Linked DNA regions of Homo sapiens: region 2 is linked to region 1. Evidence: fine-mapped expression QTL. A gene starts in region 1. The other region holds a variant in brackets. All regions are shown on one strand. Distances are from middle to middle.

Region 1 (2,893 bases):
GACCCTGACATCCCCGCCTGGCCCTGGGTTCTGGGAGCTGAGAGCCGGCCAGGGTCCTGCTCGTACCTCCGGGCGCCCAGCCTCGGGTCTGCTCCCCGCGGACGCCCCAACCTCCCCGGCCGAATGGATGGTGGTGCGCGCGCGTCCTACTCCGGCGGTGCCGGCCTTTTCTGTTGCCAAAACTAGACCCAAACCTCTGCATGGGATTCGTCTTTGGGTCCCCACCCCGTGCGCCCAGCAAACAGTGGGTGAGCCATGAAGATGTGCGAGTCAGCCGGACCCTCCCCGTCAGGCGCGGACCCGCTGCGGCCAGAGAACCCAGTCTGCGCCAGCCCGGCTCGCTCGCGAAGCCACGGGCTTCACTGACGCGACTTTCCAAGACGTGGGGGTCACCATGGGCAGAGGACATCGGTTCGGAGCCAGATCACGGGCCCCATAAGCATCAGACCATAAGCAGCGCCGCCACTGAGAGCCGCTCGGAACTCGCCCAGCATGTCGGGTCCCCTAGCCAGGGCCTGGTGTACGTGGTCGAGGGCCCTGGAAGCCCCGATGGCCTAGGAGGAGCAGGCGGGCGGGGCGGCGGGTGTCGCTGGCCGGTAGAGAGCTTCGGCCTGACCTAGCGCAGGTCTGGTGCGCGCAGAGAACAACTCCAAGCGCACCGACGCCCGCGAGCTCCTTCCAAACACCGAACGGGATCCAGAGCCCGAGCCCACAGGCGGCGGCCGGGGGAGGGAGCAGGGTGCTGGCCGCCGCCCGGGAGTGTTCGCGTCCTGGGTGACCCCTGGAAGGACGTGGGGCCCAAACTCCGGCTGGGGTTGGGAGAGCAGCCCCCAGAGGCTCTCCGCGGGATCCTCTGCCGGGCGGGACCGTGGCTCCACAGGAGAAGTGGGTGGCAAGCCCTGCTTGGCGGAAAGCAGCCGTTCCCCTCCTCCTGGGCCTGGGGCGGCGCCCCTCACCCCTGTTCCCCGCCCCTCACCCCTGTTCCCCGCCGGCCACATCCCCTGCCCCTTGGATTCCAAGCGCCCCGCGCGCCGAGGAGCCCAGCGCTAGTGGCGGCGGCCAGGAGAGACCCGGGTGTCAGGAAAGATGGGCCGTCTGGGGGACAGCAGGGAGTCCGGGGGAAACGCAGGCGTCGGGCACAGAGTCGGCACCGGCGTCCCCAGCTCTGCCGAAGATCGCGGTCGGGTCTGGCCCGCGGGAGGGGCCCTGGCGCCGGACCTGCTTCGGCCCTGCGTGGGCGGCCTCGCCGGGCTCTGCAGGAGCGACGCGCGCCAAAAGGCGGCGGGAAGGAGGCGGGGCAGAGCGCGCCCGGGACCCCGACTTGGACGCGGCCAGCTGGAGAGGCGGAGCGCCGGGAGGAGACCTTGGCCCCGCCGCGACTCGGTGGCCCGCGCTGCCTTCCCGCGCGCCGGGCTAAAAAGGCGCTAACGCCCGCGGCCGCCTACTCCCCGCGGCGCCTCCCCTCCCCGCGCCCATATAACCCGCCTAGGGGCCGGGCAGCCCGCCCTGCCTCCCCGCCCGCGCACCCGCCCGGAGGCTCGCGCGCCCGCGAAGGGGACGCAGCGAAACCGGGGCCCGCGCCAGGCCAGCCGGGACGGACGCCGATGCCCGGGGCTGCGACGGCTGCAGGTAGGAGGCCCAGGGCCGGGGGGCGGTTCGGCTCCGCGGGCGGGGGCTGGAGCGCAGCGCTGGGCAGGCACCTGGGCTCGCAGCTCCGAAGCTGGGAGGTGAGGGGAGAGCGATCGGGGACGAGCTGGGACAAGGCGACACAGGGGCTCCCTCGGAGTTGGATCGGCCCCTGGGACTTGGCGCTCGCGAGAGGCTGGAGCGGCCAGAGTCTAGCCTGCGAGGAGACGCGGGTCCTGCCCTCAGCGCCGGCCGCCTTTGGCGCCAAAGACAGCCCCGCAGGGGTTCCGGGAGGGCCCTCCTCCTGCTGTCCCCTCTCCACCCCGGGCTCCGAGGGCCGTTGGGAGGGTAACCCCGGGAAGAGGCCGGGGTGCGGGGCGCGGGTGCAGGTGGAAATCGCCAGCAAGCTCCTCCCCGCCCGCGCGCTCCCTCCGACCTGCAGGGCTGTGCCAATCCCGAGGCCTCAGCTTCCCTGAGGAGCCAGGGCCAGGCCCCCCTCTGGACAGGGAGAAGGATCTGGGCGGGGGCCTTGACCCATGGAGTTGGTTACTAAGCGGTTTCGATGGTTTCCCGAGGGACAGCTCCCTGTGGCTCTGAGTTTGTCTGTCGAGGGCTCCTGGCCTGTCTCCGGAGCGGTCCCAGGTAGAGAAAGCCCGTGAAGAAATGGCCCGGGCCGGCCTGGAGGGAGACACCTCACGCCCCCTTAGCTCCTGGGCCGCCTCCTCCTGCAGCCCCTGCCTTTCCCGGGGCTTGGACTTGGGGAGCGATGATTACCTTTGCTCAGCTTGTATTTTGGCCTGGACGCTAGGAGATAAGCCCATGTAGTATGCACACGTCTGCTACATAAACAGGGGACAGATAGACGATCTTCAACCAGCAAGGGTGCAGGGAAAAGCAATGCACCCCAAACTTCTGACCAGAGGTCATTTGCTTCCAAAGATGCTGCCATCTGTTTATTCACTGTCTGGACATTTGGAAATGGCTCAGGCTCATTAACACAATGCTTTGGTTTTTGTTGTTTTGTTTTTTGTTGCTGTCATTGCTGTTTATTTGTTCAGCCTTAGCTCTGGGGGAGGAGTAAACAAAGCGCGTGGCCTCTGGCACTTACTGAGCGCTGAGCCACCCCTCTTTGGATTTATTCGGGGAAAGATTAAAAAGCATTTCATTAAGAACAGGACACGGTGTTTGAAATGTTGCCATATATGAATGTATGCATTACGTATGTAGTTTTTAAAATAAGATAAAAAGTTGGCTGGGCACGGTAGCT
Region 2 (2,893 bases), 21 kb after region 1:
GGAGCATCCCCACCAAGGGTGTCCAGAGGAGGGTGGCCAGGTGGGGACAGCAGCTTGAGAAGGGTCATTCTCTCTTGGTTGGAGGAGTGGAAGTGCTTCTCTGGGGAAAGAAAGAAGATTCTGGAGGACAGCACAGGCACTTCCAACATGGGCGCTGGCCGCACAAAGGCTAGTGACACCCGGTGTGATCCCTTGGGGTAGAAAGGGGGTGTGAGAGGAGGATCGGAGGGGGCAGAGGACAGGGATGTGTCTGTGCAGAACGAGGCTGTGGCAGCTCCAGCGAAGGCGGCTGCGGCCCCATCAGTCACCTGCCCTGCTGAGGGCAGCGCTGTACTCATCACCTGTGAACACAGGTATCGACTCAGACACCCACTCTGGCCATAAGCTCCGCTCTGTCCCAGCCCTGGACCCCTCACCCCCTATCCTTGGCAGTCGGTCCTCTGGGTCTTCTTCCTGTGCCCACTGTGCTGGTCTGAACCTCCCTTAGTGACAGATCTGCTCCTACCACCCCCGCCAGGGTCGCCCTTCCTCTAACAGGTGGGCTCCTGGCAGGAAACATCACCAAGCTCAGCGCCCCAGTTCCCTGACAGGGCCCCACTTCCCTCCTGCCGCCAACCTCGTCCCCCCAAGGGCCATGTCCCTGCCCACCCCTTCCACCCCTTTCTTAGAGGAAGCTCAGCCCATCAGGCCGCTCATGCTTCTGACCCCACCTCCAAACCCTCCTGACCCGCTTACCCCCAGGAGCACCGCCCACTCCAAGGCGCAAGCAAGCTGGGGCTGGGGTGCAGACTTCTCTTCCACCACCCACCCTCCTCATACCCAGCCTCTGAGGGCCTCACAGACATACATGATTTGCCTCCAGTGGGCCAGGGTTATCTGTTTACCGCGTTGCATGCCCCCGGGCATGGAGCTGGCACCGGCTGCCGCTGCAACTGGGCACTACCCGTTTCGAGGACGCCTCATTCCCTGAGAGACTGAGGATAGGCTGGTGCTCTGCAAAAGGGTGCGGAGACCACTGTAAAAGTGGGGTGAGACACGCGTGCTGACCATGAAATGGAGAGGCACTCGAAGGAGCCAGGGACCCGGCAGCCAGCAGACCCCACCTTTCCGCCCCCGTGTGTGCAGTTCTGTCGCTCAGCCTGGTGCCTTTGGGACCCGGGCCTCATTGGTTCTTCCTCCACTGCCACCACCTGATACTAAATAACCGTCGGTCAATGGCAACTCGATACGGTTTATGGGGCATCCACGGTGTGCCCAGATAGAGGAGTGCTTTCGCTTTTGATATGCGTAGAGTTACTTCATTCCACCTAGCGCTTCTAGGAGGCACTACAATTATCTCCATTTTACAGACAAGGAAACAGAGGCTCAGAATGGGCAAGACATCTATCTGAGGTCACACAGCTAGAGCGCGGCAGAGGTGGGCTGCGTGGGCAGAGCAGGAGAGGGAACTGGAGTGTGTGCCCGGCAGTGCTGGGCTTCAGGGCACGAAGCGGTGGGGCAGGAAT[C/T]ATGTGTCTTGGTATGACCCAAACACATATATGACAGCAAGAAGGCCTGGGCAGGCAGCAGAGGACAAGGCGGGCCTCTTGGATGTCTGGATGTGGATTGGGCCTCAATGTACCGGTGAAGATAGATGGACAGGCAGGGGATTTCCAGAGAGGGGCTTCCCAGGCAGGGTGCGGGGTGTGGCTGTGCGGTGGGAACACGGACTGGGGAGGGGATTGCAGCCGGGCCCGTGCCTCCCTTGCTCAGCTCCAGGTCAGGCCAGGGTAGAGCCAGGCTGCTGGGTTCGACCTCCACCCTGACCAGCTGTGTGCCCATGGAGGGCTGGTCTTCCCTCTCTGTGCATGTCTCCTGGTTGGTAACAGGTGTGTGGCCTCACTGGGCCGTCGTGGGGTGGCTGGAATCCCCGGGAATTAGCCATGCTTTGGTGTTTCTACATTTCACTTGGCTGAGTGTGAACTGACCCAGGAAGCTGGTTGGGGGCACCCCCACCCACGGGGGGTCGGGCATTTTGGTTTGGTCATGGCCTCAAAGCTTCTGGGGTGAGGCTCAGGGATTCCCCCAGACTGTCCTGGGCATCTGCCTCCCCTCCCCTCCCGCTTCCCGTGGGCCACGGCCCAGGAGAGAGAGGGCAGCTTGCTCAGGCACCTCCAGCTGTCCGCATATTTCACACGGTGCACGCTACCCCACCGTGGGAGGCTGTGTTTGTCTTTCATCCCCATGCTGGGCTTCCCCAAACTAGGGGAGTGGGGCAGCAGGCGTGCCATCTGTGGCGGTGAGGGGGGCTCTCAGCCGCATCCTCCTCACCAGGCCCTGCGGACAGGCCTTCGTCCCTGCCCCTGACCTGCTGACGAAGCCGTCCTGGCAACCCTGTCTGAAGGACCTGGCCCCATCGTACCCACAGAGGGAGGCCACATGGTCCTTAGCCTCTGTCGGGAGGGGCAGGCAATGCTGGCAGAGGGCCTTGCCCCTGAGAGGGAGGCCCTCCTGGCCCTCACTCCGGGGGACCCCTGTCCTTGGCCCCAGCCTGCCAAGCGAGAGCGGCCCCTCTTCTTGCGGTGGCTGGAGGGGAGAGTGAGGCCCCTTGGCACAGAGGGCCCCAGGAGGCTGGGCTCTGATGACGCCCTGCAGGAATTCCGCTGGGCTGCTGCCTGGGAGAGCCGCTGTCTCACACAGGGCCAGCCTGCCTGGCTTCATTCTGGTGCGCTGACCGCCCGACCCCTCTGCCCAGGCGGGGGCTCTTCTGGGTTCTGGGTCCTGGGACCTGCCTGAGTCCCTGGGAAAAGGGCACAAGGGGATTGAGACGGTCTCCTCCCACAATGGCCCAGGTGTCTCCTCCCACAATGGCCCAGGTGTCTCCTCCCACAATGGCCCAGGTGTCTCCTCCCACAAT

Evidence for each region. PIP is the estimated chance that this variant, and not a neighbour inherited with it, causes the effect.
Region 2: its variant is fine-mapped to the expression of TP73 in whole blood (TOPMed, PIP 0.97).

What each region holds. Positions count from the first base shown.
Region 1 is chr1:3,651,013-3,653,905 of GRCh38, forward strand. It overlaps TP73 (tumor protein p73), which reads left to right and starts at 1,504. Exons shown (of 14, transcript NM_005427.4): 1 at 1,504-1,629. RefSeq lists an enhancer at 1-155 and a silencer at 1,115-2,064.
Region 2 is chr1:3,672,184-3,675,076 of GRCh38, forward strand. All of the region lies in intron 1 of TP73 (tumor protein p73), which reads left to right. Among named protein-coding and RNA genes, the nearest start is that of TP73-AS3, 4.7 kb to the left of the region's middle. RefSeq lists an enhancer at 1,526-1,745. The variant C/T (reference allele first, on the strand shown) is at 1,506.